Regions from separate parts of the Homo sapiens genome. Here region 2 is linked to region 1. The links come from fine-mapping of genetic effects on gene expression. Tissue or cell type: whole blood. Region 1 holds a variant in brackets; the other region holds the start of a gene. All regions are shown on one strand. Distances are from middle to middle.

Region 1 (9,122 bases):
TGTGGGCAGTTTATGCACAGAACTTGAGAATTCCCTTCTCTGACTCTCACTTCTGGGATTCCCTCCTCATTTTCTAAATGGCTTTAGGTGCCCTAAACTGTGTCTCCTGGTCTTCAGGCCAGAAAATATTGCTAATTTCCCACCAAAGTTTTAGCTGCTCTACACACAGTACCAACTGCAGCCTGCCTTCAAATTAACTGTCATAAAAATGGGACACTTTATTTTATATTGTTTCCCTCTTCCAAATGTTGACTCTGCTTCAGAATCTGCCTGCCTTTTTCACTCTCCAGTGTCTGTATGCAGTTTGTGTGTGTGTGTGTGTGTGTGTGTGTGTGTGTGTGTGTGTGTTTTCCAGAGATTATATTTTGTATATGTGAGAGGATGAATTCATAGGAAATTATTTGGTCATAGTGAAAACAGAAGACCAGATTTAAACATTTAAAAAATGTGTTTTTATATAAATAAGACTATAGCAATAAACAGAGCTTGAAATAAAAAAATAAGTTATCCACAATCTTTTTTCAGCTCATCTATAGTCCCTTCCATGTCTTATCTTTATATTCATTTTTAACATTGTTATGACAATGGTACACTTATAATTTTGTATCTTTTTTATATATACCACTTACCAATGGTGTGCTGGAAAATGTTTTAACAACTTGCTCTCTGGGGATGGGGTAAGCCCTAATTGGTAGTGTTTGCCAATTTCTCTCGTGTAAATACTCCCACCATGGCTGATTTCATGCTACTGACATGACATCATGGAATGCAGAGTTGGGAAGAATGCACACAATTGGCTCTCTCAAGCCAGTATGGGCTGAGTCCAGCACACCACTAATTACAGTGGTTGTAAAATATTCTGCCAAATGAGTGGGTAACAGTTTACTCCATTATTTCTACAACATTGAATATTATGGTTATTTTTAATGTTTTATAGTCATAAACGTTTATGCATATCTTTGGTGTTTATCTCTTTTTCCTCAAAAAGTTCATTAGGTCAAAATATATATGAAAAATTTTGTGGTTCATGGTACAAATTGTTGTGGACAAGAGTGGCTTTTTTTCTTTTGAGACAGGGTTTTGTTCTGTCCACCATGCTGGAGTGCAGTGGCATGATCTTAGTTCACTGCAACCTCGACCTCCTGGCTCAAACGATCCTCCTGCCTCAGCCTCCTGAATACCTGGGACTGAAGATGTGTGCCACCATACCCAGCTACTTTTTTTTTTTAATAGAGATGAAGTCTTGCTATGTTGTCCAGGGTGGTCTCAAACTCCTTGGCTCAAGTGATCCTTCCACCTCGGCCTCCCAAAGTGCTGAGATTTACAGGCATTAGTCACTGTGCCCAGCCAAGAGTGACTTTATTTTAAATGCTAATCTACCTGACTAACTTCAAGTCCAGGAACAAAATGTCTAGTTGATGTATTACTCTTTCTGTGGGAATACCTCTTCATTTCAAGTTTTGCTTTTCCTCCAAAGCAACCCTTGATGCTGTTGCAGAAATAGGCTGTGATGCTGGTAGCCACCTACACTTCCCAGAGCACGTATACTTCCAGATACATTATATTCCACATACACTTTCAGAGCACATACACTTTTTCCCCGAGATAGAGGCCCTGGGTTTCGGGGGTTGCAGTACAGAGACCTACGTATCTCGTGGCTGCCCAAGAGCATGCTTCTGTCTTTAAGTTGCCCTAGTAAGTGACCTAAAATCAACAAACTGGATTTGACAGCCTCCTGCTTTGGTTTCTGGACTTCTTTGACACTTGGGCATCACTCTGCGTAAATGGCCCTTTCACGGAACAATTGTAATTTCCAAAAGTATTGTGCCAATTGATATGACCACAGCTCTGTACAAAGGTACCAACAATTTTTTGAAAGGGTGCCAACACCTTTTACCAGGATCCCACTGTAAATATAAAATAAATATTATCAGTGTATTCCTTCTCTTCTCATTTCTGTATTAAGATTCTAACATAAAACTCTGCCAAAGGAACGTTCTGGACTCAACATTATGTTATTCCCCAGCTCCTTTTGGGAAACTTGGCCTTGAACAATGCAACAGTAAGTCCATAGAGCTGCCACATAACCAGCTTATGTCATCTACAAATATCACAAGTGGATAAAGAGCAGAAGTGAAGCGTTTGGCAAAATCCCTTGGAGGGGCTATGTGCTTGTTTCTCTTTATATACCTTATCCAGTTTCTTTCCTATGCCTTTCTCCTCCACTGTTTGAATGTTTCTGTGAGATCAGAAGGAGTTCCATTTCACTTTCATCTCCCTAATAGTTTTTTTTTTTTTTGAGACAGAGTCTTGCTCTGTCGCCCAGGCTGGAGTGCAGTGGCACAATCTCAGCTCACTGCAACCTCTGCCTCCTGGATTCAAGCAATTCTCTGCCTCAGCCTCTTGAGTAGCTGGGATTACAGGCGTGCACCACCACGCCCAGCTATTTTTTGTATTTTTAGTAGAGACAGATTTTCACCATGTTGGCCAGGCTGGTCTCAAACTCCTGACCTCGTGATCCGCCCACCTTGGGCTCCCAAAGTGCTGGGATTACAGGCGTAAGTCACCGCGCCGACCTCATCTCCCTGATAGTTTTATCTCCTACTTTCCATTTCGGGGAAAAATGGCATTTGGGGACTGAGAGGAGGAGGAGAGAAGGTATTTGGAGAGGAGAATGTAGTATCTACTTGTGCTGTTATTTTCCTGATCCTTTTATCTTTGGTGACCAGGATGACATGTTGAACTCAGCATGGCTTTCAGCCAGAGCATACCTGTTTCCCATAGACCTCCGATTGGCAGGGGTTAATCATGAAACAGCCTCTTGGCCATCTAGGGGTGCTCCTTCCCCCGACTGTGAACTGCAAAGAGCAGGACCCCTGGTAAACAAGTGCTTGGTAAATGCTGGCTCCTTCCCTCCTCTTCCCTTTGCTGGGAAGCAGGCAGGCTGGTTGGATCCAGGGAAGCAGTTTCGTATGGTAGAATAAAACATGAGCTTGGAGTCAAGTCAAACTAATTGGATTCCTAGGTCCTCAGCTGACCTGTGTTTGATCCTGGACAAAGTCCTTGAGCTCCCTGACTCCTGCTTTTCACTGGGAGAACACTACCTCTCTTTGGTCACAATGAGGCTTATTGATCTATTTTTGTTTTGTTTTGTTTTGTTTCTAGATGGAGTTTTGCTCTGTTGCCCAGGCTGGAGTATAGTGGCACAATTACAGCTCACTACAGCCTTGACCTCCTAGACTCAAGTGATCCTTCTACCTCAGCCTCTTGAGTAGCTGGGACAACAGCCACAGGCTACCAGCCCTGGCTAATTTAAAATTTTTTTTTGTAGAGATGGGGTCTTGTTATGTTGCCCAGGCTGGTCTTGAACTCCTGGGCTCAAGTAATCCTCCCACCTTGGCTGTCCAAAGTACTGGGATTAGAGGCATGAGCCACCCACCCAGCTTATCTGATTTTTGTAAAGTTGCCCCTTCCCAAATCACCTACACAAAAAGCCCTACGTCACCAAAGAACTTTTACAGGAAACTCACATTGGAAGACTTACTGCTTCTTCTTGGGCTACCCTGGAGGGTGACATTCAGCAAATGGCAGGACAGCATCAGGCCCTGGTTTCCCTTCCTTCATCTAGCCAGATGACAGCTGCAGACACTATGGCTGGAGGAGCACCCCATGGGGACCAAGCCTCTATGTGGATTCATATTACTATTGCCCCAGGAAAGTAAACCCAGGCTGGGAGTCTGTCAGGCCTCTTGGGGACCGGGTGGAGGTGGAAGTTACTGCTTACGCTTACGAAGGAAGCGATCTCAGAAGGCAGAGGCCATTGCTGCGAGCTAGACAGACGCTCTCCCTCTGTGCTCATCTCTAGCTTGCTGGGGATCTCCTCACTGGCCAGGTATTACAGGATGGACTCCATCCATAAGGAAAAAACCATGACTCCCACTCAGACAGCGCCTGACTGTCCATGCAGCACTTGCTGCCTCCTTTGATGGAAGTAGGCAGGGCAAGCATGACTAAGATGATGGTGGTGAAGAGACCAAGGCTATAAAAGCTGCTTGGGTTACCTGCCTAGTGAGTAAGAACATACTCCACAGCCCAACCTGAACCCAGCAGACCACCCCCAGGACCGCGCCAGGAAGGTGAAAGAGGCAGCAGAGGCCAGTTCCTTCCTGGGGCAGCGGGCTCCGCTTCTATCATCAGGTTGCTTCCCAGGCTCCAGGGTGAGCCATTCTATACCCTTTTCTCGCTCCTCAAGCCTCCAGCATGCTTTCTTCCCCCTTGTACATTCACACAAGACCTCACTTCGGTCACTTTGATGACAAAATAGAAGCCATCAGACTGGAACTCCTTTTCCTCCCACCATCAAGCTAGAAGCCACCTCGCGCCCAGACTCATCTTCTGTCTTCCCTCCTGCCCCTTCCTCCCATCAACACCGGCCCCTCCACTTGCACTCTGGATCCCACTTTGCTGCTGGTCCCCCAACCCCACTCGCAAATCTCACTTTTTCTCCCCCACAAGGTCAATTCCTTCAGCAAACAACCTGCTCTCTGTCTCTCACTAAAACAAAGTGGAACTCTTGTATGAACATACACCCTTCTCCAGATACTGCCCCATTTCCTCCCCCCTCTTCAAAACTTGACAAGAGTTGTCTGTCTTCACTGCATCATCACCCTGACCTTCATGGCCTGCCCCACTCCCGTCTGCGTTCTGATCTCACCATTCCACTGAAACTGCTGGTCGAGGTCAGTGGCAGTCTCTGCGTTGCCCCATTCAAAGGTTATGTCTGTCTTCCTCTGACTCAACCTCTCAGCAGCTTGCAACACAGCTGATGGCCCCCTCCTTCTTGAAACACGTTCTTCCTTCAGCTTTTAGTTTAAACCACATACATTCACTGGCTTGCTGCAATAACAGATTACCACA[G/T]ATTTTGTGGCTTACAACTATGCAAATTTATTATTTTATAGTTCTGTAGTTCAGAAATCCAACATGGGGCTCACTGGGCTAAAATCAGAGTGTTGGCAGAGTTAGATTCTTTGCCAGAGGTTCTAGGGGCAAATCCATTTCCTTAATCATTCAGTTTATTAGAAGAATTCAGTCCTTGCGGCTGAAGGACTGAGGTCCTGTGTCTGGGCTGGCTGTCAGCTGAGGGCCGTTCCCAGTTTCTAGAGGTCACCTGAATTTTTGGCTTCTCCATCTTGAGAGCCGGCAGTGGTGGGTCAATTCTTCCTCGTGTTTTACATCTTCTGAGCCCCTTTCATCATCACACCTCTCTGACTCCCACTGCTGCCTTGTGTATTTGTAAAGAATCGGGTGGTTAGATTGGGCCCACTGAGATAATCCAGGATAATTTCTCCATCCCAAACTCCTTAACCTCAGTTGCACCTGCAAGGTCCCTTTTGTCACCTAAGGTAACATATTCACATGTTCCTCAGATTAGGGTATGGACATTCTGGTGCCCACTGTTGAGCCTACCATGTCATCTGCTTGTTCTCTTCCTACTTCCCCAGCAACTCCTTCTCAGTCTCCTTTACTGGCTCTTAATCATCCCACAGCTCTGAATGTGAGAGGCCCTCAGCCATCAGCCTTCAGCCTTCTTATCTCCTACATGTTCTCTGCAAGCAATCCCATCCGATTTTGTCCCTTGTAAATACCATCTGCAGGCTGGCGTGGTGGCTCATGCCTGTAATCCCAGCACTTTGGAAGCTAAGGTGAGTGGATTGCTTGAGCTCAGGAGTTTGAGACCAGCCTGGGCAACATGGAAAAAGCTGTCTCCACTAAAAATATAAAAAATTAGCCAGGTGTGGTGGTGCATGCCTGTAGTCCCAGCTCCTCAGGAGGCTGAGGTGGGAGGATGGCTTGAGCCCAGAAGATGCCACTGCACTCCAGCCTGGGTGACAGCGAGACTCTTGTCTCAAATAATAATAATAATAACATAAATAAATAAATACATCTGTGAACCACTGCTCCTAAATTTATATTTTTAGCCCTAAATTCACTCTTGAGTTCAAAATTCATGTATCTGACTCAATATTGCCATTGGAATAAATGACTGCCATCTTGAAGTTGACATGTCCTAACTGAAACTGTGGGTTTTCTTTACAAACTCTATTTCTCCCCTAGTCTGGACTCATTCAGTAAAGACATCACACCAGCTTGCTACTCAGGCCCCAGACCTAGGAGTCATGCCAGAGCCCTGTTTATTTTTCTTTTTTTTTTGAGACAGAGTCTCGCTCTGTCGCCCAGGCTGGAGTGCAGTGGTGCGATCTCGGCTCACTCTAACCTCCACTTCCCCAGGCTCAAGCGATTCTCCTGCCTCAGCCTCCCAAATAGCTGGGACTACAGGTGCGTGTCACCACGCCTGGCTAATTTTTGTATTTTAGTAGAGATGGGGTTTCACCTTGTTGGCCAGACTGGTCTCGAACTCCTGACCTCAAGCGATCTGCCCGCCTCGGCCTCCCAAAGTGCCGAGTTTATAGGCGTGAGCCACCGTGCCCGGCCTCATCAGCCGTTTTCTTGAACACCCTCTCCCTGATTCTTACACAGTCAATTCCTCCACATTATTCAGGTCTCAGGTTTTTTGTTATTCGTTGTTTGTTTTCCCCGCTCAGGTCTCAGTTTTACAGTTGTCTCCTGAGAGAGGTCTTGGCAGTCCTCCTGAGAGTAGTTCTTCCCTTCTGCCTGGCCCAGCCTGCACCCCACCTTCCTGCAGAGTCATTCTCTCTTGATTTTCCCTGTTTGATTTCCTTCACTCCCCTTGTCTCCATCTGGAATGATAATGCTTATTTCTTTGTTTCCTTGTTAAATATCTTCCTTCTCACCTCCCACCCTGACTGCTGTGCCAAGAAGGTGCATGAAGGCAAGAATCGCCGTCTGTCTTTCTCACTCCTGTTACCGGGGGCCTAGAAACATGCCTCCCTAGTGCATGTTTTTTGGGTGGATTCGCAGCGAATGCCCCACGTTCCCTCTATCCCACTCCCTTCTGCTCCCTGCTTTCCCACACTTTCTCTTCCTTTACAAGCTCTGGCCTGAGAACGGATGAGTTTTTTATTTTTTTTCCAGCACTCAATCTGTTAACGACTTTGAAGATCCCTGACTAAAACCAAATAATAATTACACTAATTACACTTAATTGTGAGCATTTATATCACACTTACTATTTCCGAGCACCGCCATAAGCACCTTACTCATCCTGAATAGGCACGCTGTTCCTCGGTTATTCCTCACTGTAATCATCTCCATTCACAGAGGAGGAAGGCGAGGCACAGAGAGACTAATGTGCCCAAAGTTCCACAATAAGGAAATGGTGGCAGCAACCTCCCGAGAGCCAGGCCTGACGGGCCTCTGCCAGGGCCCCACGCTTTAGATGGCCTGCTCTGGCCTCTGTCTGGCGGTGCCCTCCCCACAAGGCAAGGAGCCCTCGGAGCCAAGGGGAAGGCTCACTTCCTGCTTGTGGACTACACTTGGGAGCACACACTGTGGAATTCCAGCCCACACAGCCATGAGGCTGCTGCCAGGGCCTCTCCCCAGGCCTGTCTTCCTTTGGGTGCATGCTGCCACCTCAGTGGGCCCAAATGGTGGCCGCAGGGCAGCTCTTTATGAAAAGTGTGGACAGAATTTGAACCAGCAGTCTCACTGTCCACACGTGGCCCCTTTGAAGGTGTGACAGAGCAGGGCGTGGGAAGAGGAGGGCGAGCCATGGGCCTCCCCACACTCCCTCCTCCAGACACAGAACTGTGTGGAGCCCCAGAGTTCTGCATTCACACCTGGCCTTCCAGGTCATTGAGAAGTTTATGTGTCAACGTAGGAGGGTGGAGTGTATTCTCCTTATGTCTGTCGGCTTGACTGACAGCTTTAAAGTATTTTAAATATTTAGACATGTGGTCTGTGGCCTCCTTCCATCCTCCCCTCTGGGCCCACAGATCCTGGGGTGGGTCTGAGTGGCAGAGCTAGGCGTGGACCCAAGAAGCCTGGCCCGGGCTCCCTCCCATGCTGCACCCGGGAAGCCTTTGTGTTCCGAGCCACGCGCCTTCCCAGAGGATGCCCTGCACCTTGGCTGTCCAGTCCTGTCCCCCATTTGCTTCTCCCCTGGGAGCTCAAATATGGGTCATTCCCACCGTATCCAGCAAACTGCACGACGCTCTCTCATGGGAGGCCTGCTCTTGCTGGCATCCTGAGCTGGTCACCAGTGATCCGTAGAGTGGTTCGAAGCGTATGTTTTGGGTTTGAATGCCAGTTCCACCACTTATTAACTGTGACATCAGGCAAATTATGTAAGCTCTTAGCCTATTTTGTGTTCTGTTTTCAAGGATTAAGTGGGAATGTCTACACATTCAGTAAATGTTTGTCATCGTCATGGCACTCCACCATTTGCTCTGCGGTCTGGGGACAATGCCCTGTGGCTCAGCCGTTTCTCCAGGAAGCTGCCTCAGGTGGACGCCAAGCACAGAGCTGGCAGGAGCAGGGACTAAAATAAACAGCCACAGAGTCCCCAGTGGGAAGTCCTAGGCCCTGGGCACAGCTGAGCTGGAAGGGATGAGGTGACCCGTTTTCCCTGCAGTGCTCAAAGTGGGATTCTTATGAGCTGCTGGGAGCCATGCAGTCCTGGAACGTGGCAGGCACGTCACCACCTTGAGGATTCTCTATGTACTTCCCTGCAAAATTCTTCTGCCTGTGACATGTGCCACCTGCCATCTTCCCCTTTGCTAATAATGATTGCACCACACACTCAGACACAAACACACATTCACAGACATGCAAATTGTTTTCAATTCTTTTTTTTTTTTTTTTTTTTTTGAGGTGGAGTCTTGCTCTGTTGCCCAGGCTGGAGTGCAGTGGTGTGATCTCGGCTCACTGCAAGCTCCGCCTCCCGAGTTCACGCCATTCTCCTGCCTCAGCCTCCCGAGTAGCTGGGACTACAGGCGTCCGCCACCATGCCTGGCTAATATTTTTGTATTTTTAGTAGAGATGGGGTTTCACCGTGTTAGCCAGGATGGTCTCGATCTCCTAACCTCGTGATCCACTCGCCTTGGCCTCCCAAAGTGCTGGGATTACAGGCGTGAGCCACCATGCCCGACCTGTTTTCAGTTCTTTTTAATAGCTAAATATAAAGCATCCCTTGACAAGAGTTT
Region 2 (9,122 bases), 24 kb before region 1:
ATGCTAAATGGTCTCTCTCCAGCTGGAATGATAAAACTCCAAGAAACGCATGATAATGAGGACACCTTAACCTATAAATGATGTGTTAAGACCGAAAACCCAAAACGATGATTACTGAGAGTAGTGCTGATGCCCTGTTTTAGTAACTCTCACCTAGGTGAGAACCTGACCAAAAGGGGAGAACTGTTAAATAATATTTCTAGGAGGCCATTGGTTGGGACTGAGCTCCTGCACAAGGCCCAAGAGACCAAACCAAGATGGAGTCCCTCAAGCTGAAGTTCCACGCCACCAAGCCAAAACTAAGCTGTCGATCTGACCTTCCAAGATCAGGAGAGAGTGAGTTAACAGTCAAATCTTCAAACAAGCCAGTTTCAGCCAACATACAGAAGTCTCCTCTGCTTTAACCTTTAAAAGGGACCGAAATAACCAATCAGATTTTTGATCTGTTTCTACTTTCTTCAGCCTTTTTCTGTCTATAAAGCCAAACTCCTCTGCTCAGCTCATCAGAATACTCATTCTGTAAGACAGAATGTGGTGTTGTCCGATTCCAGAATCACAAATAGAAGCCAGTTAAGATTTTTGAATGTGGTGTAATTTTGTCTTTTGACAAGTAACAGGAGATGGAATAGAGAAGGTCCTTATGTGAGTGCTCCATTGTTAAAGCAAAGCTGCATTTAAGCTTTACTGTCAACGCAATGCAGAGCTGGGTGACAGAGGCTTTTTGAAGTGTCAGGTGTCTTAAATGCCTAACACCAAAATGATCAGTAGTATCAGTCTAGCTCTACTACTGGGGAGAAAACCCTTTCCTGGTGCAATTATTGCTCTGAACAGCGTAATTTTTCTACCAACCACAGAATAAATGGACTAATGGAGAGGGGAAGGGTGGCGAGGCAAGAGAAGTTGGACAGCTGTAAATCTTGGATTGATGGGTGAGGGGATGCCCTCTGGTAGGGGGTGTTGTGGGGATTCTGCTGAGCCCCCACTGGGGGCTTGGTCTGGAGTCAAGGGCAGCGTCCCCTGCCCCACTCACAAGTGCAGGGAGGGCACTGGGTGGAGCAGGAAGCCTTGCTTGGAGTTTAACTGGCTGCAGCACCGTGAGCTCCACATGTCTCTCTGGACCTCTGCTTCCTCCTGGATCAGCGAGGGCCAGGATGAATGATCTCTAATGCCCCTTCTAGCTCTGACAACCGTTGAGGTGCTGGATGGCAAACAACTCTTAACAAGAAACATGCAGCCTCCGAGTGTTAAGTGGGTCTGGACTTCCATGAAGACAGAGGCACAGATTTACCCAAACCACCAAGAGCCAGTCAGACCTGGTGGTCTAGTGACTAGAATCTACTGACCCTCAGCTCTGGACTCTACACCGAAGAATTCAGGAGCTCTCCTGACACAGAGAGTTAGTTTATGCCCTGTCCAGCTAGTCAGCACTATGCGGTCACCAACTCATGCCTTCCTTCCTCCTTGCTGACAGTTTCTGGGCAGTGACGTCACTGGATGGACAAAATGCCTTCTCTACCCCTCACACCTGGCTGACACCCCCGGTCTGAGTCAAGAGGATCCACGGCACCAGCAGAAGGTTCTACACTCACGCTGTCATTTGGAATCCTGTGAGGCTCAGGCCACTGGCCACCATGAACGTGCAGTGGGCTCCTACTCTGCACCAGGCTCTGTGCTGGGAATCACAGGTACACATAGCAGATGTGGCCTGTGCCGTGGAAGAGAAGGGGGGCAAAACCAACACTGCTCACTGTCACTCAAACACACGCCTTACGAACCTCACCTCCATAGCTCGGCACATGCTGTTTTTCCACCTGGAGTATCCTTCCTCCTCCACCCACCTCTCTACCTGCCCAGGCTCCAGAAAGCCAAAAAGAGCTGGAGTCAATGACCTTCTCCAGCATCTGTGTAAACCTGGAAAGTTACTTACCTGTTTTAAAAAAAGAGGAAGACAATATCCATAGTACAGATATTTTCCCGGGTAAGGATTGTCATAATAATGGCCTGTGAAGGCCCTTAGCAAAGTGCTGGCATAAGGCAAGCGTGTAATAAATAACTACTGGCATGAAGGCCTCTGGTGATCAGATTAGCCCTCTGTGACTTTCCCCTCCCCTGGGTTCCCATAAGAAATGGCTGAACCACTCCTTTGGCCTTTTTCAAACACAGCTTTGTAACAGTTGCCAATTTTCCTTCTATGAGTAGCTCATTTCCCCAACTGCAATGCAAACAATGCTTATCACTCAACAAATATTTGCTGATTGATTAGCCAGTGAATAGCAATGAAGGTCTAAATTGGATACAACCAGTTTCCAAAACATACAGTGAGACAACCGGAGCTGCTCTGGAATAGAAAGGGGATAAACCAGGTTCTCAGAAACACATGCTCTGCCCCGGGGCAGCAGGTGCCTAGAGAATCTACTGCCCTAGTCACTGAAGAAATGAACCCTATTCAGTCAGATTAAATGCCTGAAGCCAGCCAAATATGGCTGCAAAATTCTTCTCTCTCCCTGTGACCTTCACTCTGTCTCTGTTCCTGCCTCAAGATACAGGTGTCCTCAGCAGAGAGCATGGGCAGTACTCACACAGCCCAGGGTGGGATGAGCACAGCCCTCTGCGGGCCCACAACCAACCTTTCTCAAGAAACCTCAGGACACAGAGATGAAGCGAGACCAACCCTAGCTTCTCAGCAGGGCCTCACCAGGGAACACCCCTTTGGGTTAGAGTGGAGGACATTCTTCATTGCAGGCTGACAGCAGATTCTGCCAGTGCCCTCCCAACACGATCTGGCTCAAGGACTGACTCACACCAATGGCTCACAGGAGACCTCCAGTTTCCACTGAAATCTCCCACCTCCCATTTACCCTGGCTCACCCCCACAGACTTTGATCCTTCCATTTCCTTTTCAGAGGTTAAATTCTGATTTCGCTTTCTTATTTTAGAGAAAGGCTCCATGCACTGGGGAATCCTGTTTGGAAGTGGTAACCCTCATCCAGGAGCAGAATGGGTCAGTATCTAGACATGCAACTCATAGGAAAACTAAAAACTCTGCATTGCAAGAGGCCAAACATGTGAGTCAGCTGGAAGCTAATCTTTCCCCCCAGCACTCTCAAGAAGGAAGAAATTCTAGAATAAGTCCATCTGCAGCCACTGAACACCTCTTATAACCTCAAAGTGGAAAGCGATCTGGGAATTTTTATGATGTTCATGCCCACAATGTCCCCTGAGATTACCTTATCTTAGGTGTTCCAGTTCCATGATCCATGTTCTTCCTCCCTCCTCCCCTGACCAGATGTGTTGACATCACTCCTCCCCTGACCAAATGTGTTGAAATGGTGTGAAGCACTGCTCAGAAAGGCACGTTCAGCTAATGGGACCAGTGAGGCATGTAGGCAAGTGTAAACTGGAGGTCAAAACAGCTTATAAGTTTCATTTAAAAATAATTTTCCAGGACCATATGGCTAAAAGATGTACACATGGTTCCATCTCGCCTCTTCAGAAACCAATCTGCAAGCTGCTCAGGAAAAGAGGAGGGTGAGTCTGAAAACTAACATCTACAAAGGCACTGTTCTACCACAAAGAGTTGAATTTATCAAGAAATACCAACAGTGGAACAATGGTTCCAGTTCCCCTTTCTCTAGAAAAAGGCCTATTTCCAAAGATGCCCACAGTTCTCATTCAATGACCATTTCAGGGTAGGAGGCCGTGCTAGCGACCTAGCACCAGAGTCAGGAAGTAACTCCATTCAGAGGCAGCAAGTCAGGAACAAATCACTATCACTATACCACTCCTGCCCGCCAAATACCCACTACCTGGATTAGGTGGATGTGTGACACCACAGGAATCTTTAAATTGTGGAAAGGAAACTATGAGACAATGTATGCCGAGTACTTAGTAAGGTGCCTGAAATGATAGGTGCTCCGTAAATATTAATTACTATTATTACCATATTTCCTCGACTCTAAGTCTTAAGTGTTTCAAAATTTTAGCATTTCTGTAATAGAGTTCACCTTCAAATCTTTATACATGTAGTGGTTTTTTCCTATCCTTCTACCCCTTGGGCTGTCATAAAATGAACAGTGTGTCTCACAGTTGATGGTGTCTTGGAATTCAGGAAATATAGTTTTGGTGCCCCAACCAGGGATTGGGAACATGGAGCAAGAGCCAAACACGCACCAAAGGCCTCTGGGTGCATGGGTTTAAAATATAAGGGTCTGAGCGGGGGAAGAGAGAGAAGGATGTGGCCCAGAAGCTAAGGAGCTGGAGGCGGCAGGTCAGGAGAGGCCCGGAACAGAGATAGGAAAACTGCCAGGTGGACATACCCACATCAAAGACAAAAATGAGAAAGGAAGTCTATGTACCACCTGGTCAACCAGTCGAGGGAGTGGAGAAAGGTGGCAGGGAGGCAAAATGGATGTCCGTTCCCTTTTCTCCCCAGCACTGACCCACAGCAGCTAGGGAACCTGGCAGGAAGATGACATGGGTCCCTGGACGAGAGGAAGAGGACTGCCACAAGGCTGGCCCAGGAAACGGTAAGGTGTCAGCGGACCATGCGGAGGAAGGAACAAAGGAGACCTCTCGCAGGGAAGGAGGCAGTAACCTGGCGGGGGACGAACCGGGCGAGCAGGGCAGGTCTGGGGGCCCAGGCCGCGGAGAGGGAAAGAAGCTCGGGATGAGGGCCAAGAGGAAAAGGCAAGGGAGCGGGAGGCAAAAATGGAGCTGAGAAACATGAAGGTGGTGGGCGTGGGATGCGCGGAGAGGAAGAGGTGGGCGGAGGTGACTGGAAGAGGGACGCGCTCCCGGAGTAGGAGGCTGCCCACCGGGCAGGTGGAGGGGTCCGGGCGGCGGGGCACGGGGGAGCGGGCCGCCCCCGCTTCTCACCTTTGACGTCTTCGGCCAGCGCCTTCCACGTCGGGGCGAAGGCGATGCAGTGGCCGCACCAGGAGGCGAAGAACTCCACGGCCCAGGCGCTGCGGGAGCCCAGCACCGCGCCGCGCACCGTGTCCGCCTGCAGCAGCGTCAGCGGGTCGGAAGGCGAATAGAGCGCCGACCGCGGGGCCGCGTTAGCGCCGGGAACCGCGAGCAGCCACAGCAGCAGCAGCAGCAGCGACGGCGGCGGCCCGGAGCCGCTGTTGCACCTCCTCATCCTCGGCGCTGCGCTCACCACCACACGCAAGCACCGGATGAGTCGGGTCCCGGCGCCGCGGCACCGCCTGCCTCCGCCCGCAAGGAGGAGCCACGTGGCCCCGCCCCTGAGCCCCCGCCCCCGAGCCCCCGCCCCCGAGGCCGGCCCAGCCACCCCGCCCCGCCGGCCGCTCCTGGGCGCGGGAGCGGGCGGGGCTGAGCTTGTTGCAGGGGCTGGCCCTGGCCGGGTGGTGAGCCATCCTTTCGCGGTCCGCCGAGGCCTCGGAGCAGCGCGACCCGGGTTCCCGCCTCAGGCCCCAGGAGGCGAGGTGTACAGTCCGGTAAAGGAATGGAGCGCCCGCCGAGCGGTCGCTGCGGGGGTAGCCTCGCGGAGGTTGTTTGGCCTCTCACGGCCCCCGTATCCAACGGAAGAGGAGTCCGTTGGAATAGACGACCCGGATTTCGGCTGTTGTAGGGCAGTTCCTGGGCTCCCGCGGAGCGATGAGACGTTGTGAATTAGATGTGAGAAGAGGGACGCTTGGTCTGCGACCACCAAGACCCCACAGGATCGATGCACCCACCCCTGCTGATGACCATGACCATCTAAAGGGGAACATCATTTGAGGGGCCCTACTCATGGATCAGAAGCCCCTCTTCACTGTGGGGTGTGCTGGGTTGGCGGGCAGTTGCCGTGGAATCAGTTTCCTCAGGACCCATATCTGACCACCCTCATAAGGTTGTCAGGGCGATTCCAACATTCGGGGTTCCCAGCAGCCCAGATCCCCCACATCCAGCTCTTCAGCCTACTCAGAGCTCTCCACGCTCACTCACATGTCCCTCTCGCAAGTAGCCCGATCAACTCACCTGGTGTCATGGGCACTAAGGTGTTAATGGATTTTCTCTGGTCACCTTTGCAGCTCCACTGTTTTGAGTGAGTTATTTTAAGGGGAGAAGGTGCTCCTCAGACGGTTGTCACAGTGATATTTTTCCTTTGTGACTGCCAGGTTAGCCCCTTTCACCTGTAAGAGCTTTGAGCCTAGATTTGTTATTCATTTATTCAAGTTTTACTGAGTGGTGTCATGCCAGGCACTTGTTTAGGTATAAGGATAAGGCAGTAAACAAAATATAGACTCTAGGGACGTGGAACTTACATTCCAGTGGGGGTAAAGAGATGATACATAAGTAAATGTAGATCAGATGGTGACCGATGTTATGAAGAAATGTAGACTGGGGTAAGAATAGAGTGGCAGAGGAGGTGCTATTTTACACACGAAGATCAGGGACAGGTCTACCCTTAATATTTGCAAGAACTGAGTCAGTAGTACAAATGGAGGCCCACATATCATGTCTACATATTTTAAAACTACAAATTAAACGGTGATGTAAAATTCCTATCCTTTTATCTTGACATGTATACCTTCATCATAATCTGGAAGGCCACATTTAAGTTTAGGATTCTTGGACCCTTCTGAGATACGCCCTCGAATGTAGTGCTTTGGAGGGGGAACATGTCCTTGGCCCTCAGCCTTCCTTCTTCTCTTGGCACCCCAGCTCTGTCCCATACTTCAAATGGCCTTTTGCCCACACCTATAACAACGACATCTGCACATCAGAGTTTTGTCCACACCTGCAAATAGCCTCCCCTTGACCACCCCTTGCTCCTCAGGAGGATAGACCTTGGGAAAAGGCTGAGGCAGCCTGTAGCTGGTGACCTGTTGCTATTGCGGCACTATTTTCTAGGGTCCCAGGAACTCACAGTATGCTCTAAAAAGGAGAGGGGCAAGAGCTCTGAGTGAGTACATCCCGTTGGCCCGTGGGATTTCTTGCCCTATGGAAAGGAACATGGACGGAAGAGAATCAGGTGCTCAGAGCCCTAGACTGGGGCTCCTCTTGCCCCAGTCTTGAGGCAGTTCTAAAGAGGTAACATTTGAGCCAAAGACCTAAATGAAGTATGGGAGGAAGCCCTGTGGGAGTCTGGGTTAGGAGCACTCCAGGAAGTGGTCCAGAGGTTGGAGTTTTTACTCCCTTCATGTGTTCATATCTGTCTGCCTGAAGTCTTAAGCTGCATAGAGAAATTATGTGTTAGCCAATTGGAGTGTTAGTACCTTGCTAACTCTCCTCCCCATGACGCAGCCAATTCCAGTTGCTGGGTACTCCTCCCCGGGACTCAGTCCCTGTACAGCTTCTGCTCTCCAACTTTTCTCGCTCCTAGCAGCCTCTGGAACCAGAATGGACGGTCCTCTAGTAACGCTGGATTCTATGGGTTGGAAGTACTGCAGCGGCTGGATCAGGTTCCAGTAAAGTTTTGTACCTTCAAATGTCTCTGTTGTTAAACAGTGTTGTAGTTATCTTTCCCATGGGCCTAGAAATTAAGGAGACAAATGTCTACTGAACATGCTGAGTGCTTGAGAAAGACACTCCAGATAAATACATAAAGACTTGCTTGTTTGAATATCTGTTTCAGAGCATCAGAAATGGCAAAGAATACAAACTATTTGAATGGAATAGAGAAAAGTTTCTTGGCAATGGTGCCAAAGAGGTTTAAGACTGAGAGTTTTAAAGTCTGGGGTTTCTGTATCTCATCAGAAGGGGGATTTTCGACTTTTTAAAGACTTGGAAACCATTGTTCAAACAGAATCTTGAAACTTAAACAGATAAGAGCAATAACAAAGATATAACCTAGAGCAAAACCCACTTTCTGTGGTCAGTGGGGCTCCCTAGGCCTCTATTTGACAATCACTGGTTTAGAATTAAGAGCAGAAAACGTGAGAATCGCAATTGCCCTTCTTGCCCTTCCTGGAACTTCCTGGGATGAAAAGGTTGCGGAAAAGGAAATCTACTCAGAAATGGGTGTTGAGAGAGGAAGGGGTGCTGCGGAAAACCCCGGAAGCTGGAGGGAGCACTTAGAAATTCCTACCGAAGTCCCCTTTTCCCCCTTCCTACATATAAATTGTAGGAAAGGGGGCCGAGATGAATCAGATGAGCAAATACTCATGGTGTGGGCTAGCACTTTGCACCTGCTGCTCTAAGGATTTACAGATGGTACTCATTTAGTCCTCACACCAACCCTTAATATGAGGGTTGATATTATACCAACTCTGAACCTCAACATGAGGTTGATAAACCATTTTTACAGATGGGGACTGAAGCGGAAGGGGCCCTGTTGACTTTACCACTTGTGAATCATTCATGTGTTATGCATGAATAAAAGAGAGGGAATTTGGAAGTCTGCCACCCAAAAATGAAATAAATTATGAGAGGAACGCAGCTTATACACAATTCACATAATTATAGTGAGCAATAGAAGAGTGTTTGGTAAAATATGTCACCCAGTAGCATTAGATGACTTTCCCCTTACTCATTCGCACCAAGGATCAGAGAAGGTGTATGCAACTGGAGGCAGGTGCCCAGCAACAGAAAAGAGACCCTTGCTTTGTCCCTCAAAACTCTAGGTCTTCCAGATGAACCTTTCCACAGCTGGGACAGTTAGAACCCTAATTCTGAAAGTTGGAAGAAAAATAGCAAGAGTGTGTATCAGTTAGATATGAAAGGAAAGAGAAAGCACGTTCCAAGGGTCTACTGAAAATGGTTTACTGGAAGAACTATTCACAAGGTTGTGTGCAGGGCAGAGGGAACTAATTAGGGACTGGCAAAAGCAAAAAGCCTTTCTAGCACTCCTGGACCAGAGCAGAGAAAGGGAGGGAATTTTGTGATGAAAACCAGTGACAGCAGGAAGTGAGGGAGAGGGGCTGCCCAACTGGTGTTGCAATCACATGATGCCACCACTGCCAGAAACACAGGGAGGCACTGGGAGAGTATGACTTCCACTTTTTTCTCCTCCAATCCTCCAATCCTTCTTGCCATTGTCTCCCACTGGCCAAACCCAGTCAAAGCCAGAGGGTGAACATGCCCTGATTATATAGTCTGTAGAAGTTGGCTTCCAAGACAAAAGGCAGGACAGTGGAGGGTGGAGAATGGAGAATAATGTACCTAGTACAGGGTCC

Evidence for each region. PIP is the estimated chance that this variant, and not a neighbour inherited with it, causes the effect.
Region 2: it holds the start of QSOX1, and the variant in region 1 is fine-mapped to the expression of QSOX1 in whole blood (TOPMed, PIP above 0.99).

What each region holds. Positions count from the first base shown.
Region 1 is chr1:180,127,351-180,136,472 of GRCh38, reverse strand. No RefSeq gene overlaps it. Among named protein-coding and RNA genes, the nearest start is that of QSOX1, 23 kb to the left of the region's middle. The variant G/T (reference allele first, on the strand shown) is at 4,918.
Region 2 is chr1:180,150,926-180,160,047 of GRCh38, reverse strand. QSOX1 (quiescin sulfhydryl oxidase 1) reads right to left here and starts at 5,179. Exons shown (of 12, transcript NM_002826.5): 1 at 4,876-5,179. The coding sequence starts at 5,140. It overlaps LOC105371636 (a long non-coding RNA gene), which reads left to right and starts at 5,210. Exons shown (of 2, transcript XR_001738314.3): 1 at 5,210-6,049; 2 at 6,859-7,440. RefSeq lists an enhancer at 4,905-5,004 and a silencer at 5,185-5,504.